Linked DNA regions of Homo sapiens: region 1 is linked to region 2. The links come from fine-mapping of genetic effects on gene expression. A gene starts in region 2. The other region holds a variant in brackets. All regions are shown on one strand. Distances are between the middles of the regions. Region 1 overlaps LOC105375566 (a long non-coding RNA gene). Region 2 holds the start of AOC1 (amine oxidase copper containing 1).

Region 1 (9,383 bases), 85 kb before region 2:
AGCCTTTTAAAATAAGGAAATCCTGACTCATGCCATCACCTTCAATGGCAAAAACTCTGATTACTTTTGCACCAAAAGTACACTTCTTTAAGGAGTCCTGGTTCCTTTCATTGGGGAATGGCAGTATAGCAGTTTCTTATAAATGGAAAATAGTTTTGCAATTTCTTATAAAGTTAAACATGCACTTACCATGTGACCCAACAATCCCACTCCAAGGTATTGACCTAAGTTAACTGAAACCTTATGCTGACAGAAAAACCTGTACCTGATTTTTTTTTTTTTTTTTGAGATGGAGTCTCACAGGCTGGAGTGCAGTGATGCTATTTCAGCTCACTGCAACCTCCGCCTCCTGGGTTCAAGTGATTCTCCTGCCTCAGCCTCCCGAGTAGCTGGGATTACAGGCATGCACCACCACGCCAGGTGAATTTTTGTATGTTTAGTGGAGAAAGGATTTTGCCATGTTTGCCAGGCTGGTCTTGAACCCCTGACATCAGTTGATCCTCTTGCCTCAGCCTCCCAAAGTACTGGGATTATAAGCGTGAGCCACTGTGCCTGGCCCTGAATGTTTATAGCAGCTTTATTCATTACCAAAGCTAGAAATAGTTCAGCTGTCTTTCACAGATGAAAGGGTAAGTAAGTCTGTGTATATCCAGACAATGGGATACCATTCAGCAATAAAAAGTATCAACCCACAACACATGAATGAATCTGAAATTCTTTTTGCTAAATGAGAGAAAATCCAAAATGTTACATACTGAATGATTCTATTTATATGGCATTCTGGAAAAAGCAAAATTATAAAAATAGAAAACAAATCCGTGGTTGCCTGGAGTTGGGGGAGTCCTATGAAATGATGCCCCACTAAAGGGCCTCATTAGGAAACTTTTGGGCAGTCCAATTGTTCTGAGTTAAACTGTCTTGTTGTACACGTGACTCTATGCCTTTCTCAATCCCATAAACCTATACACCACAAAGGGTAAACTTTGCTGTATACAAATTTTTAAAAAATCAACTGAGATCTTGGGGAAATCCAAGATGAAAAGCGGACTGCTAAAATGAATCTAACCGTATTACAAATAAAAAAACATAACCATACGGAAGTTAGGAGGGAAGAAACGAGCTGACCTAAGTGCCTTTGTAAAGCAATGTTTTGACTGGAGAGTGTCAGGCCAAAGACAAGAAGAACAGTACAGAAGCAACAAACTCTCATTGGTAAATTCGTTTTTCACAAACAACCCTAAACCTATGGTATACTTGGGCTCAAAAATAATTAAATATAGTGTAAGCTATGGGATCCACTTTTCTCATTGTCAGAAAGAAGTTACAAATAAGCAGAGATAATGCTAGAATAAATCCTGGTGCTGGACTGGAGTTAGAAATATCAGTATGAACTCATGGTTGATTTATTTTTAGTAGATACAAAAATATAATATGTGTGCATATATGGGTCAGTTATACATACATGAATTACCTAGCTCTGCCCACTGAGAGAGAGGAGACTATGAGCAGTGACACCAGTAGCAATGAGCACAGCCAGCACTCAGATCTTGATTTCGAAATGCCGTTCCCTGATGAAAGGAACCAGGACTCCTTCAAGAAGTGTAGAAGTGGCTGATTCCAGGGCTAGGATAGGGAAAATAAATATAAGATGAGCCTGGAACACCTTATAGTGCCAGAAAGTAAAGAAGTGAAAACAGGATAAAGCATGTGAAAAATGCAGAAGAGGAGGCAAAAATTTGCCCCTCCTCTTTTATGGTTTTGTTGTTGTTGTTGTTGGGGGTTTTTTGTTTTTGTTTTGTTTTCTTGTTTGTTTGTTTGTTGCCTGGGCCTGGAGAATTAAATAGACATAAGACAAATCAACAGGAGAAAAGTATATAAATTATTTAATGCAAGTTTTTTAATGGCAGGAGAGCATTCATAAGGAAATGAAGACACAAAGCAGCAGCTAGAGTCAAACATTTATGCCCTGAATTGTGAAAATGTAACAAGGCAAAGGGGCTTATGCTAGGGTAAATAACTGGGTAAATAAGTAATTAGGAACATAAGGGATGCTTGTATAGATTCCTATCAGCCTCAACTTCCTATCCTTTGTGATGAGAATGTTACTTTCTTCTTGGTTTAGGGAGAACACCTTTCACATGGGAATTTCATCTCTGGCTTTTAAAGAACAGTGAAGGTCAGAGTGATCTTCTTGCATCTCCTGTTTTTATGTGCCTTTAGTTTAAAATAATTCTGATGCCAAAGTGGCATATTTGGGGATGATGTGTTCTGAGTGACATGTTTTGGGGTAGTGTATTCTGAGCCTCTTCATTCCCCATTTGAAACTTTACTTTTAGAAAGTTTCATATGTTAAAAGCCAAGTTAGTAGCTGTGAGCAGATTTGGGTTGGAAGTTGTGAAACAAGAGATCAACGAAGGGAAAGAAAAACAAGGATCGGAACACACAGAAGAACAAATATTCCCCGTATCTTATTGACACAGCCTTTTAGTCCTGAGAACAGTTCAGTTGAACAGTTGCGTCTCATTTTAGGAGGCCGTGTTGCAGTTGGGCTTCCATCCAAGTTGAGACTTCATAATGTAAACAATAAGAGGCATTTCTTTTTTTTTTTTTTTTTTTTTTTTTTTTTTTTTTTTTTTTTTGAGATGGAGTCTCGCTCTGTCGCCCAGGCTGGAGTGCAGTGGCGCGATCTCGGCTCACTGCAAGCTCCGCCTCCCGGGTTCACGCCATTCTCCTGCCTCAGCCTCCCGCGTAGCTGGGACTACAGGCGCCCGCCACCACGCCAGGCTAATTTTTTTGTGTTTTTTAGTAGAGACGGGGTTTCACTGTGTTAGCGAGGATGGTCTCGATCTCCTGACCTCGTGATCCGCCCGCCTCGGCCTCCCAAAGTGCTGGGATTACAGGCGTGAGCCACCGCGCCCAGCCCAATAAGAGGCATTTCTATGGAAACAAAAGAAAAATAAAGGTTAATGTTTAGGGCAAGTTATAAGCCCAGCTTTTGAGTCCAGAGGGCAATCAGTTGGTAAAGGGTACTATAGGTTGGGCTCAAAGCATCTTTAGATAGAGAGTGAAGATAAGCAGTGGTAATTCTGATCAATTTCCTGATTTGCAGTTTGAATGTCTCTGGTGAGGTCATTGGGTGTTCCAGTGGACTTTCTGAGTGGCCTACACAGCAACAGGCACAAAGGTTGCTTATATATTAGTTGTGGTAGTGAGTTCTCTGAAGTTTATATCAAGTCATCCAGTTTCAGCTTGCAAAATTTCAGGAAAAGGGCAGCTTCAGTTTTCAGTGATGTCAAGTCAAGAGAGTAGGAGAAAAACATGAAGCATTAGCCTGAAGATTTGTTGCCGGATATGGGAGGAAATTAGAGTTTAATATCTAATCCATTCTACATATAGATAACAAAACTTCAAAGACAATGAACAGTACTAGAATCCAATAACGGGTACACTATAGTTTTTGTTAATATAATTTTTCTCTCCACAGTCACTCCCACTTTTACCAAACATAATCACAGTAAGACTAATTTTTTTACAAAATAAGTCTAGTCACATTAAACTTGTCTTGATTATTTATATAATGCAGCAAGAATAGTGATTGATCGTATAGGCTCTTTTTAAGTCTGCTTTGCTGGAACTGCTAATAAGGAATCTAAAAGCCTCTCAAGTCTAGGAAGCCAAGCCAAGAGCTTGTCATTAGATTTTGCCTGTAACACCTCTAGATTTGGGTGAGTTCCTCTGTTCTCGAGGTCTCCAAAATATTTTTAAGGCTCCTGGGCCTGCATGAAAGTTACCTTCTTTACTCAACTATAAGGCTAGGAACTCTGTGAGCAAGGTACCAGGCTGGGGGTTTTTTAAGGGGCCTTATTCGCCCCACAAAGTCATCCTTAGTTTCTTAAAACTGTGTAGTCATATCTGATTCTATGACATTCTAAAAATTACATTCCAAAGCTTTGGTAATGTAACCAATGTTTTCCATTGTGTCCTGTTACAAACAGATAGATTCTTATTGGACCTATACAAACAACTATGGTCATGAATGTAAGAATACTCACTCATCATTTTCAAATTCTGGAGGGATTAGGTAGGGAGAAAATCAAATGCTTTATTTCTGTTTACAAATGCATAATCTACCAGATTGTGGTCAACTACAGATAGCGTAGGATAAAAGAGAAAACATTTCCTCAGATCTGGAAAACAAAATATTAAAGAACGAGCAATGTTTTGAAAAAAGGTAATTTTTTAAAGCATCATTTTTTTTCATCAGTTCATTTAGTCCCATCCAATTAATTTTTGTTTTGCCCAACATCGGGTTAACAGTTTTACAAACCAGTCAGTTTCTTCATTAGAGTTCTGGAAATTCTTACCCAGGCCAATGGTGGGATCTTAAAGTTATCAAAAACCTGTACTTGTTGGAGTCTTTTCCATGATCTCTTTGAAGACAAATTTTGACCATAGTGGCTTGCAAAAGCTTTTAGGAAAATATCACAGTAAAATAACATGTAAATTATAAAAGATTTTTAAGTAGTCACATTTAAATATCTAATGAGAGTTTCTTACAATCTAATTGATGAGGAAATTTGGTTATTTCTGTGACATACAACATTGTAAAATAAGATGTAGAATTCTGATTGATAACATTATATCAGACATATGATGAATAGCTAAGGGTATTGACAAATTTTAAAGAATTTTATTTCTGAAACACTCTTATTAGTAACATGTGCCCATATAAATATAAAGAAAGCTAAACGTCACTTTTACTTGACAGTGCTTCCCACATAATTTAACATATCAAATAAGCCAATTAGTTTAAT[G/C]TCCCTCTTTTACAAGGTGAGAGAGAAATTCTTTCACATTTTCCAGGAGCCCATCTCAAAAGTCCCAAAGTTAGTTCAAGATCAATAAAAAAGGCTTAATTTAGAAATTAATCTTGGGAAGTTTGTCAGAAACGTCAAAAGGGGCCGAGTATGGTGGCTCACACCTTTAATCTCCACATTTTGGGAGGCCAAGGCAGGAGGATGGCTTGAGCCTGGGAGTTAATACCAGCCTGGGCAACACAGACCTATCTCTACAAAATATTTTTTAAAACATTAGCGGAAGATAGTAGCATGCACCAGTAGTCCCAGCTACTCAGGAGGCTGAAGTAGGAGGATCCATTGAGCCCGGGGGTCAAGGCCGCAGTGAGCTGTGATCATGCCACTGCATCGTAACCTGGGTAACAGAGTGAGACCCTATTTCAAAAAATAAAAACAATAATAAAAACTAGGAGTGGAAAGGATAGGGGTTTAGATGAAACAAGATTGCCCATGTATAACTGTTGATGCCTAATGATAGATACGTTGAGTTCAGTACGCTATTTTTTCTACTTCTATGTATTTAGAATTTTCCACTTAAAAAGTTTTTTTAAATAGATTGACAGAGGTTTATCAAAGTTCATAATATTTCAATTTTTCCAAATATTTTAGATATAATGGGTTAAATGGGATACTTTTCAACCTTTCAGTGAAAGAGTAAGACATACAATTTATAGTCATTTGGTATGTCTTGATAAAGCTTTTTTGGTATACTTCCCAGACATTGAGAAATCAAGTGATTCTAATGACTGGCCATTAAATCCTTCTGCAAGTCAAGCAGTCTCCACTATTTTGTTTTCAACAAAAAGGAAGACAGATATATCCATCAATAGAAATTAAAAATTAATGAGAAACCACTATGCGGTTTTGGCATTTATTTTGGAAGGAGTACAAAGAATTGAGTGGCATTAGCATAACAGAATTGATTATATTTCTATTGATTCGTTTATATGAACAAGGCTTCTCAATTTTTGCACTGAAGTAATTTCATTTAAAAATGTTAATATCTACAATGTGCTAGAAATTACATCCTTTGCAAATATTCATGATGAAAAAATTTTAGAAGTTCAGCTTAAAATCAAGAGAAGACCTAAATTTTTAAAAATCCCTTTAGTGAATACAGAAGTAAAAAAGTTTGAAGACCATTGCCTTAAAGAAAAACTTACATGAATGCATAAGGATATTTTGTAAGAAGACTCATGATAGTAAAAAGCTACAAACAACCCAAATATTCATCAATACTGCATTGGATAAGCAAATTATAGAATATCCACACAGTGGAATGATATTCAGCAGGAAAAATGAACAAAACACAATTACCTACATCAACATGAATAAATATCATATACATAATGTTTAATCAAAGAAGAACCGTTCTTTTCCCAGAAGAATACAGAATCTGATTCCATTTTTGACAAGGTTAGTCGTGGAAAAAAACTAAAAATATATATTGTTTAGAGCAACAGACATAGGTGATACAAAACTATAAAGAAAAGCAAGGAAAGGCTGGGCGCGGTGACTCACGCCTGTAATCCAAACTCTTTGGGAGGCCAGAGCAGAAGGATTCCTGAGGACAGGAGTTCGAGACCAGCCTGGGCAAAACAGTGAGGCCCTATCTCTACAAAAAAAAAAAAAAAATTGGCCAGGTGAGGTGGTGCACAAGGTGATCTTGCTACACAAAAGTCCAAAGTGGGAGGATCGTTTGAGCCCAGGAGGTCAAGGCTGCAGTGAGCTATGATTGCACCACTGCACTCCAGCCTAGGCAATGGAGCAACACCCTATCTCAAAAAAAAGAAAAAGAAAGAAAGTGAATGATTAACACAAAAGAGAGGATAGTAATAATACCCTAGCGACAGGGAGAGGAACTCATGGAGGTGGGATGGGAAGCTTCGAAGGGCAATGCTCTACTCCTTAAACTGGGTATGGCTTTATTGAGCTTTATGCTGTACATATACTCTTATATATATATATTCATGATATACTTAACTATAAATATAGCTCAACCATATTGAAAAACATGAAACAAGACCTGAACAAACAGAAAAACAGACCATGTTCTGGTATGAAAATACTTACCACTATGAAGATATACATTCTTCCAAAATGGATATATACATAATTAAATTCCAATTGAAATCTGTTGTTTTTGTGTGTGGAATTAGATATGCTTTCTTCAGGCTCCCTTGTGCGGAAAAAAAATGCCTGAACATAAGTTAGTCTGGCATCGGCATAAAACACACAAATAAATCAGTAGGACAATATACATAGTACATAATGAATCCTAGTTAATAATGGGAATAAATGTATGAAAAAGCAGAGGAAAATTGGTTATTTAGTTAAGTGGTGAGGAAAAAACAGCTTTCCAATTAGAAGAAAGTAAAGCTGGGCTGCTACCTCACACTACATAAAAATCCAAGAGGCCGGGCACAGTGACTCACACTGTAATCCCAACACTTTGGGAGGCTGAGACAGGTGGATCACGAAGTCAAGAGATCGAGACCATCCTGACCAACATGGTGAAACCCCATCTATACTAAAAACACAAAAATTAGCTGACCGTGGTGGTGCCCGCCTGTAGTCCCAGCTACTTGGGAGGCTGAGACAGGAGAATCGCTTTATCCCGGGAGACGGAGGTTGTAGTGAGCCGAGATCGCACCACTGCACTCCAGCCTGGCAACAGAGCAAGACTCCATCTAAAAAAATAAAAAATAAAATAAAATCCAAGAAGGATTGAATTTGTGTCTGTAAAAAAATAACATGAAAATCTTAAGACAAAATACAGGAGATTATATGTACAAGCCAAGAGTTGAATGTACTTTCTTAACCAAGACATGAAGCCAGAAGTTATAAAAGAAAAGATGGCTTTAAAGTGTTTAATATGGCAAAGATGCCATAAACAAATTTAAAGATAAAAAAATAAATTTTTCTCTTGAGCCCAGGAGTTGTAGGCTGCAGTGAGATCTGATTGCACCACTGAAATCCAGCTTGGGTAACAGAGTGAGACCTCATCTCTAATGAAAAAAAAAAAAATTAAGATGAAATTTTAAAATCTATGTTACCAAAAAAACTCACAAAAATAAAAATGTGCAACATCCTTAGACTGTTCACAGATGAACAATCAATGGCCAATACACATGTGAAAAAAATTCACTTCATAATGAAGGAAATGAAAATCAAAACAACTTGAAAGCATTGTAAAAAGTTATATACTATTGACAAAAATTAGGGGTGAGCTGAGGTCTGGAGGTCGAGATCAGCCTGACCAACATGGAGAAACCCCATCTCGACTAAAAATACAAAAGGCCGGGTGTGGTGGCACATGCCTGTAATCCCAGCTACTCCGGAGGCTGAGGCAGGAGAATCGCTTGAATCCGGGAGGCGGAGGTTGCAGTGAGCCAAGATCGCGCCATTGCACTCCAGCCTGGGCAACAAGAGCAAAACTCCATCTCAAAAAAAAAAAAAAAAAAAAAAATAGTGGTGAGGTTGGGAAGAAACGCAAAAGATGCTTTAATGCATTGCTGGTAAATGTAAATTATTACAGCCTTTTAAGAAAGCTCTCAATAGGATTTATTTTATTTTAAAATATTTATACACTTTAATGCATCAACCCTATTCCAAAGACTCCGTCTCATGGCAATAAAAGCTCCAGTTAGTATAGTCTGGTTTTGCAGAATTGTTTCTAGAGGCAAAAACATAGGAAGAGAGGTAAAAGTGCATCAGTAGGGATACTCATATTGGTATACTCATATCATGGAAATATTATGCAGCACTAAAAAGGATTATTAGAATGGCTAAAATTAAATACACTGAACACACTGAGTGTTGGTGAAGATGTGGAGGGACTGGTGGTATATAAAATGGTGCAATTGGCCGGGCTCAGTGGCTCACGCCTGTAATCCCAGCACTTTGGGAGGCCAAGACAGGCAGATCACCTGAGGCCAGGAGTTCAAGACCAGCCTGGCCAACATGGCGAAATGCTGTCTCCACTAAAAATACAAAAAAAAAAAATTAGCCAGGTGTGGTGGCAGGCGCCTATAATCCCAGTTTCTCAGGAGACTGAGGCAGGAGAATTGCTTGAACCCAGGAGGCGGAGGTTGCAGTGAGCTGAGATCACACCAGTACACTCCAGCCTGGGCAACAAGAGCAAAACTGCATCTCAAAAAAAAAAAAAAAGTGGTGCAATGACTTTAGAAAACAATTGGCCAGTTTCTTAAAAAGTAATCTTACACACCCATAATATGACTCAGGCATTCCACTCCTAGGTATATTCCTAAGAGAAAAGAAATCATGTGTTCATAAATGTCTTATACCTGATCATTCATAAAGCTTTATCTGCAATAGGCAAAAGTTGGGAATAAACAAAATATCTATCAACAGGTGAATGGATAAACTAACTGTAGCATATCTATACAATGGAATATGACTTCTCAATAAAAAGATATGAGCTACTGATTCACACAACATGGGTGAACCTCAAAATTATTATGCTCAGTGGAAAAAGTCAAACAAAAGGAGTACATATAGTATATATGG
Region 2 (9,383 bases):
GTTGGGAAACACACCACATCTCAGTTCAGGACTCTGCTCCTACCCCCACTCACACTCCCACTCCCACCCCCGCCCCTGCCCAGTGTGTCCTCTTCCTCCTAAGTCCCTCGTGTATCGCAAAACCCCACACAGGCTCTACCTTGTGGATCCTCGGGGCAGCAGCCCCCCAGGGCACAGGGCTTGGAATTCACTCACTGGCCAAGGACCATGCTCTCTGCAATGAGGCAGGTAAAGAAGGTGTGCTGGGTTGCATAGCATCCCCCTAAAAATTCATGTCCTCCCTGGAACCTCAGAATATGGTCTTATTTGGAAATAGGGTCGTTGCAGATGAATTAGTTAGGATGATGTCATACTGGAGTAGGGTAGGCCCTCAATACAATCACTGGTGTTCTTGAAAATAGAGGTACTGAGACAAGGAGGACGCCATGTGAGGACAGAGATTGGAGTGACATGGCCACAAGCCAAGGCACTGAGGGACACCAAGGATTGCTGGCAACACAGAAGCTGGAAGAGGAGAGGAAGGACCCTCTTCTTGAGCCTCCAAAGGGAGCATGGCCCTGCCTACACCTTGATTTCACACTTTAGGCCTCCAGAACTGTGAGACAACCCATTTCTGTTACTTTAAGCCCCTGTGTGTGGTCCTCTGTGACAGCAGCCATGGAGGCTACTGCAGAGGGGATAGAGTCCCAGGACTTGGGGGCTTGCAGTCTTGAGGGGAATCTCCTTCCAAGCCCTTGCAGGACAGGCCCTTGGGCATCAATGTGTTGCACTTACTCTGTGCCACCTTGTAATATTAATCCTTCTATGTACATGTTATGGGCCCCGTTACATAAAAAATGCAATTCTTTCTGGTGTGCTTCAGCTCCCTGCCTACACGCAGTGTTCCTCCCTGCCCTCACTGCATCCTCCAGGTGCGGGACCTGTGGTGGTTCCTGTCCTCAGCCACATCTACCCTGGTGTGAGGACCTGTAGTCACTCAGTCTGTCTCCCAGGCCTTTCTTTTATTTATTTATGGACGTCCATTGCAGAACTGAATTAATTCTACCTCAGTGCATGGATGTCGTCATCACTGGCCCATACAAGTCCTCTCTCTTGTCTTTCTCACGTGTGTATGTATGTATTCCCACTCCCACCCCCGCCCTCACATCCATTCTAATGTGTATCCACTCTTGAAAGCGGGTGGCTTGGTGTGTACGTGTTTCCTGTTGTGTAATGGCATCGTGCTATCACTCATCCTGCGTCTTCCATGATCCTGAGATCCCTTCTCAGGAGTGGCTGTGTGGACATCCATGCCTTTGCACCCGCCAACTGCACAACACCCCATGGTGTGCAGTGACCACTCTCCTGGGGGTGGCACCCCGATGGCCTCCAGCTCCCCAGCCTCACAGCCACTTGTGTCTGCATCCCACCTCTAGGCCTGGGTGAGAACCTCTTTGACATATATTCCAAGAGACAGAGTTCCTGAGTCTGGAGAGCATGCAATTCTCTCATTTGCCCACACCCTGCAAAGTGCCCTCCAGAATGGCTGTGCCATCAATAACCCCTTCCCACAACCACACATAAGGTCCCCGTTTCCCCACATCTCTGTCAACACTTGGCATCATCCAGCTTTCCCATGAAAAATTATATCTCGTTGTTGAATGCTTTGCATTTTTCTAGTAACCACTACATTTGAGCATCTTTCCATGTGCTCTTTAGCCCTTTGGGGTGCCTCTTCTGCAAGTTACCCTTGGGATTCTTTACCAGGTTTCCATGGGGACTGCTGCCTCTTTCTGACCGATTTGCAAGAGCTCCTTGTGTATTCTAGATATTAGTCCTGTCACTTTTTGAAAACAGCTTTATTGAGACACACCTTACAATTCACCCATTTAAAGTGTATAATTCAATGCATTTTAGTACATTCACAGGTACATGCAGCCATCACCTTCAATTTTAGAACTTTTTAATCACCTCAAAAAGAAACCCCATAAGCATTAGCTCTCACCCCATCCCTCCATCGCACCCCAGCCCTAAGCAACCACTAATGTGCTTCTCATCTGCTTGAGAGATTTACCTACCCCACACGTTTCATATAAATGGAATAATGTGGTCTTTTGTGACTGGCTTCTTTCATTTGCCGTAGTGGTTTTAAGGTTCATCCACATTGTGTCATGTAACAGTGATTCCTTCCTTTTTATGACTGAATGATGTTCCATTGAGTGGATAGACCACATTTTGTTGACTCATTTATCAATGCAGAGACATATGAGTCGTCTCCACTGTTTGGCTATTGTGAATAACACTGCAGTAAACACTCTGGTACAGGTTTCCCCATGGACATAGGCTTTCCTTTCTCTTGAGCATATACCCAGGAGTGGGATTGCTGGGTTATATGATAACAACGTTAAGTCATTTGAGGAACAGCCAGACAGTTTTCCGAAGTGGCTGCGTCATCTCACCATGAACTGCCTGTGAGGCTTCCAGTTTCTCTGCCTCCTGGCCCCACCTGTTATTACCTTGCTTTTGAATTCTAGCCATCCTAGTGGATATAAAGTGGTATCTCCTGGTGGTTTTGATTTGCATCCCCTGATGACTAATGACATTGAACAGCTTTCCATGTGCATATTGGCCATTTGTGTATCTTCGTGAGGGGAATATCTATTCAGATCTTTGGCTCATTTTTAATTGGATTATTTGCCTCTTATTATGGAATTGGAAGAGTTCTTCTTACATTCTAGATATAATTTTCTTATCAGATATATAATCTGTGAATATTTTCTCCCATTCTATGCTTTGTCTTTTCATTTTCCTGTGGGTGTCCTTTGAAGCATAAAAGTCTTTTAATACTGATGATGTCAATTTATCTATTTTTTTTTCTTTGGTTATTTGTGCTTTGAGGTCACATCCAAGAATTAGATGTAAAGTCAAGCAGATTTACTCCTATGTTTTCTTTTTAAGAGTTTTACAGTTTTAGCTCTTACATGTATGTCTTTGGTCCCTTTCGAGTCCGTTTCCGTGTGTGAAAGGGTCTAACTCCATCATGTGCATGTGGCCCCTTTCCCTTTAAATCTTTGCAAGTCTCTTTTCTCGATCCATCCTCACTCCATTAACTTTGTCGCAGTTTCCTTTGTGGAATGGAAACAGATTGTAGTCCTCAAAATCAGGTTGTTCCTGAAACTCTCTTCTAATCCAAATCCCCCCAATTCTCTGCGGAGTTGGTGAGCCCATAACTGAGAATACATAACTCACAGTCCTCTTGAACACTGAGGGTGAAAGACGTTAGCATTCATTGTCTTTGTATCAATCATCATTTTAACATGGAAGGCAAATCCCCTTCCTCAGAAACACCAAAGACCTTCTGGAATTGCAAGCAAGCTTCAAGTTGACTAAGTGTGTTCACCTTCCTTCATCTAGCTGCCAGTGCACACTGAAATGGCTTGCATTGCGGGCAGCAGGAAGGATGATGATGAGAAATACAAAACCCCTATAACCACAAAGCGGTGTGCAATCCCTGAGCAACCAAACCTTGGTAATGGGGGATGATGACCCCTTGGCACTCCTGAGCCACGAACTTTTCCTGACTCTATTCTTTCCTTTCCAACTAGGAGTTACCCCGGTCACCACGTTCGCCCTTCTCAACCTGACTAAGTGGGCGTTAGCACTGTCCGCCCACTGCATGGGCACTACCTGCCCCAGTGTCCTCTCCCCTCTCCGCTCTGTGCCATAGCCTTAGCTACCCTGGCCAGCTTTCTCCCAGCCAAGTCCTTCCTCCTTTCTGAATCTGGTCAGGGTCTCAAAGATCGTTAAAAAGCCGCCAAAGTTTGCAACTCGTCTTGAGTGGCTGCTCCTCCCAAACGGTTCTGCCTCTGGTGTCTTGTTCTAGGAGCGGTTGAATTCTCTGTTTTGCTGTGGGTGCCAGCCTCTATCAGCCCCTGCCCTGGTCCATCTGTCAGCTTCAGGTAAGACTACCGGCTAGGAAATGGCCCCTTGTCCTTATCTCTGCCTCTAAAATATGCCACCTAAATTAACAGATCGTGGCATTGCATGGCTCGTCACAGAGAAGCCAAGGCAAATTCTTGTGGAAGGCGGCACTTGTCTGGAAACAGACTCAGGACAAGTGTGCTGCACAGCCAGCTTCCTCAAACCCACTCTCGCCACTGTAGCTGCCCACAGAGGCACCTCCCAAGCCATAGGCCCCTCCTAGGCCAGCTCAGGCCTCACCTTGTCCCTCCCTGCAGGGCGGGGTCTGATTGACTTCAAGAAGGAGTCAGAGATCAGCTTAAGGGCAAAGGCTGGAAGCAGAGCGAACTGGGAGCAGAGCACACAGGTGCGTTCTGATGGGTATTCGGGAGAGTCAAGAAGGGGCTGACCTGGAGGACAGAAAAGCAGTGGAAGGAGGGCACAGAGTGAGGGGCAGAAGAAACAGGACACAGAGGGAGGAGGGCCAGGAAGTGAGGGCGGGAGCCCAGCACATCACAGAAGGTGCCCGGGTGCTTGGTGGCAGGCAACAGCCGGCCAGGGTGGAGTGGGGAAAGCTCAGAGAGGAGGGTGAGCAGGGAGAGGGCTTGCTTCCTGTTCCTGCCTGGAGGTCTCACCAGCCACCACCCCCACTGCCACTGCACATGGGGACAGAGGTTTGTCCTGGGGAAAGCAAAGGTCTCTTCCACATCTTTCTCCTTCCTGGAAAAGCAAAAAGAAACGTGGGTATAAGAGGTTGTAAAAAAGGAGACCCAGCCGTGAAAGGACATGGAGGTACCCTAAATGCACACTGCCAAGCAAAAGAAGCCAATCTGAAAAGGCTGCAGACTGTAAGATTCCAAATACAGGACGTTCTGGAAAAGGCAAAACTATGGAGACAATAAAAAGAGCAGTGATTGCTAGGGTTTCGGAGGAAGAGGTGGAGCACAGAAGATTTTGGGGGAGGTGGAACTATTCTGTGTGATATTCTAATGGTGGATCCATGTCATTGTCCGTTTGTCCAACCCATAGAATATGCAGCAGCAAGAGTGAGTCCTGATGTAAACTGTGGGCTCTGGGTGAGAGTGATGTGCAGGTTCATCAGCCACAAATGTATGGCTCTGGTGTGGATATTGATAGTGGGGAGGCTGCGTGTGTAGGGGCTGTGAGTATACAGAAACTCTCAGTACCTTTCGCTCAATTTTGCTATGAACCTAAAATTCCTCTTTAAAAGACTCCTATTTAAAAGACTTTAATAGACTTTATAAAGTTTGTTAAAAGACTTTTAATAGACTTTTTAAAGACTTTTAACAGACTTTATAAAGTCTATTAAGAAATCTATTAAAGTCTATTTTTAAAAGTCTATTAAAAAAAAAGTCTACTATAATCCCAGCACTTTGGGAGGCCAACGCAGGAGGATCACTTGAGCCCAGGAGTTCAAGACCAGCCTGGGCAACATAGTGAGATCCTGACTATATATATATATATATATATATATATATATATATATTTATTTATTTATTTATTTAAGTCTAATAAGAAGTCTATTTGGGGCCAGGCCTGGTGGCTCATGCCTGTAATCCCAGCACTTTGGGAGGCTGAGGCAGGTGGACCACTTGAGGTCAGGAATTCAAGACCAGCCTGACCAACACGGTGAAACACCATCTCTACTAAAAACAAAAAATTAGCCGGGCATGGTGGTGCACACCTGTAATCCCAACTATTCCAGAGGCTGAGGCAGGAGAATTGCTTGAACCTGGGAGGCAGAGGTAGCAGTGAGCCAAGATCGCATCACTGCACTCCAGCCTGGGCTACAGAGCAAGACTGTCTCAGGAAAAAGAAAAAATAGTCTATTTAAAGAAGAAAAAAAAGAGGCCTGGCCAATATTTAATAGGAGAACACAAGAACTCACCTCATATCCTTCCTGCTGGCTCTGGGTTCCGCCTGCAGCCCCTGCCTCACCTGCTCCCTCCAGGTAAGCAGGGCCTCCGAGAGCCCAAGATCATGTGGGTTCCAGGGTCTTCTGCCAGCACCAGAGGGCAAGACAAGGCAACTAGAGGGACATCCCCATGAGAGGCCATGACCATGGAGCAAAACGAGGGCAAGGGGAGAGCCCTCGGGGAGAGGGGCATGGGAAAGGGAGAGAAGGACATCTCAGATCAGCCTTTACCGTGGCCTCCAGGGCTAGAGAGCCCTCGGGTGATGGAACAGGCCCAGCCAACACCTTTCATTTGTCTATGAATCAAGAACTGCCCATCGTGTACAAATTAAATACAAAGTGCTAAGGGGACTAGTGGAGAAGTATGTTAGTTGGGGCCAAAAACAGCATTCCTCGGCAGTGCGGGGTTTCAGCTGACCTCAAAAGGTGGCAAAGGATGTGACACTGGCCCAGAGTCGGGTGGGAAGGGACAATGTGCAGCTGAGCTTCTCTGGAGGAAAAAAGCCACGGGAAAACAGGGCCTCTAGTTAACACATGGGTTGTGTTCCCAACGCTTGTGCTTCGGAAATGTGATGTGTAAATGCATTTTCCAAAAACAAAAGCAAGAAATGAAAAGCGCTCATGATGGTCAGGTTTCCTCAGTGGGTCACTCCACGATACACCCAAAGTGGAGCTGCTGCACCTCAGTTACACCTCACACCCTGTGCCGCCGACTTTCCAGGTGAAATCCTCGGGGCCTCCCTTGCAGGCAGCCTGGGCCCCCTGGGAAGAGGCTGGGCCAGGCAGAGGTCTGAGACAGGAGTGGATTAACCCTCTCTGCTACCTGTCTGTCTGCACAGGAGAACGAGTTTTCTCCAGGTTTACCCCCAGGGCTTCTGATTTAGGGAGCAAAAGGCAACTACCTATGAAAATATGAAAACAAGGATCTCTCAGAGTCCAACCCACTCATGCATCCACCTTATAAATCAAGTGTCTGTGCCTCAGGCACTGCTTGCAGGAAGTGAAAAGCACAGCTGAGACAGGGAGGAATCCTGAAGCGGGGCTCCCAGCTCAACCCAGAGCCTTGAGGAAGGGGGTGCAAGGTGGCAAAGGCAGTGCTTCTGTAGGGAAATTTCACGGTGACGGCAGCCTTCCAGGGAGGCCCACATCACCTAGGAGGACAAGTTAGGGTCTGGAGAAACTAAGGCTGGGAGACAGCTCCAGCCAGCATCTGTAGCAACAGCGCAACAGGCAAGAGTAACAGTCTCCCAGAGACTCCGCACACAGCACATGGGAAGACAGAGCTGTGGCCACCACGTCTCCCAGCCCTGCAGGAGGCTCACAGCTACAAGCACAGGATTTTACAGCTGCTTGGGGAATGGGGTTATGAGGTGAAGACCCTGACCCACCCTCCCTGAGAAAGGAAAAGGCATCTTCCTAAGATGAAACCCTCCCTGAGGTCCCCTCCTAGTAGCCTTGGGTGGACAAGAGAGGTGAATGGGGCACAAAGAAGGCTAGGCAGGACTGGGCACCTCTACCTCACCCCCAAAGCCATCAGTCTGCAGCCTAGTCACACCTGAATCACTCTACATTGCGTAAAACTTTAAATGGGCTGGTGTCGATAGCCTGTATTTAACAAGAAGAGCAGCTAACATTTCTCATGTATTTCCCATATGGCAGACATTGTTACAAACACTTTATATTTACTGTTTAATTGATTTCTCTCCACAACCCTAGGAGCTAAGCACTGTTGTCATTATTTTCATTTTAAAACTAAGAACATGAAGGCCCAGAGAGTTTAAGCAGCGTGCCCAAGGCCACACAGCAAGTCCTAGTGGCATGAGTCACTGGGACTTGACTCAGACAGCCTGACTCTAGAGCCTACCTTTGAATTTCTACACTAAATTTCAAAATCTGTCTACCTAAAAGGTATTTCGTTGTGTCAGAAATGTAGTTTTGCTGTTAATACAGGTGTCTTCTTCTCCAGGACACAAGAAGCACCTGGGGGCATGTGCAGGGGCCCAGCCTGGCCTCTGTGACTCACGGCACCCCTGGCTGAGATAATACACAAAAACAAGGGTGTTCCCCTGAGTAAGGAAGGCTGCAGGACTGAAGGACATTTACAGAGGAGTGAGGAGAGGGCAGAAATAAATGGATGGATGCACAGGCAGCGGCCCGACGGCGCTGGGGACTATGCATGGGGCCCCAGCTGCCCCAGGACAGCCTCCAGCTTGGGGCAGGGCAAGGGGAGGAAGCTCAGTCCATGGGAAAATTCCATGGCCCTAACCTGAGGGAAGCCCATCTCTGCCCATAAGACAACTAAGTTCATCTCCTCTATTGCATTCCAGAGCCGTGGAGCGAGAGATGCCGGCCCTGGGCTGGGCCGTGGCTGCCATCCTGATGCTGCAGACGGCCATGGCGGAGCCCTCCCCGGGGACTCTGCCCAGGAAGGCAGGGGTGTTTTCAGACCTAAGCAACCAAGAGCTGAAGGCAGTGCACAGCTTCCTCTGGTCCAAGAAGGAGCTGAGGCTGCAGCCCTCCAGTACCACCACCATGGCCAAGAACACCGTGTTTCTCATCGAGATGCTGCTGCCCAAGAAGTACCATGTGCTGAGGTTTCTGGATAAAGGTGAAAGGCATCCTGTGCGGGAAGCCCGTGCCGTCATCTTCTTTGGTGACCAGGAGCATCCCAATGTCACCGAGTTTGCTGTGGGGCCCCTGCCAGGGCCCTGCTACATGCGAGCACTGTCCCCCAGGCCTGGGTACCAGTCCTCCTGGGCATCGAGGCCCATCTCCACAGCAGAGTATGCCCTCCTCTACCACACCCTGCAGGAAGCCACCAAGCCCCTGCATCAGTTCTTCCTCAATACCACAGGCTTCTCATTCCAAGACTGCCATGACAGATGCCTGGCCTTCACCGATGTGGCCCCCCGGGGTGTGGCTTCTGGCCAGCGCCGCAGTTGGCTTATCATACAGCGCTATGTAGAAGGCTACTTTCTGCACCCCACTGGGCTGGAGCTCCTCGTGGATCATGGGAGCACAGATGCTGGGCACTGGGCCGTGGAGCAGGTGTGGTACAACGGGAAGTTCTATGGGAGCCCAGAGGAACTGGCTCGGAAGTATGCAGATGGAGAGGTGGACGTGGTGGTCCTGGAGGACCCGCTGCCTGGGGGCAAGGGGCATGACAGCACAGAGGAGCCGCCCCTCTTCTCCTCCCACAAGCCCCGCGGGGACTTCCCCAGCCCCATCCATGTGAGCGGCCCCCGCTTGGTCCAGCCCCACGGCCCTCGCTTCAGGCTGGAGGGCAACGCTGTGCTCTACGGCGGCTGGAGCTTTGCCTTCCGGCTGCGCTCCTCCTCCGGGCTGCAGGTCCTGAACGTGCACTTCGGCGGAGAGCGCATTGCCTATGAGGTCAGCGTGCAAGAGGCAGTGGCGCTGTATGGAGGACACACACCTGCAGGCATGCAGACCAAGTACCTCGATGTCGGCTGGGGCCTGGGCAGCGTCACTCATGAGTTAGCCCCCGGCA

Evidence for each region. PIP is the estimated chance that this variant, and not a neighbour inherited with it, causes the effect.
Region 1: its variant is fine-mapped to the expression of AOC1 in whole blood (INTERVAL, PIP above 0.99).

The regions. Positions count from the first base shown.
Region 1 is chr7:150,763,381-150,772,763 of GRCh38, forward strand. LOC105375566 (a long non-coding RNA gene) reads right to left here. Exons shown (of 4, transcript XR_928163.2): 3 at 1,472-2,596. Among named protein-coding and RNA genes, the nearest start is that of GIMAP5, 31 kb to the left of the region's middle. The variant G/C (reference allele first, on the strand shown) is at 4,815.
Region 2 is chr7:150,848,253-150,857,635 of GRCh38, forward strand. It overlaps AOC1 (amine oxidase copper containing 1), which reads left to right and starts at 4,265. Exons shown (of 5, transcript NM_001091.4): 1 at 4,265-4,306; 2 at 8,203-9,383. The coding sequence starts at 8,219. All of the region lies in intron 1 of LOC105375567 (a long non-coding RNA gene), which reads right to left. RefSeq lists enhancers at 3,847-4,418, 8,583-9,383.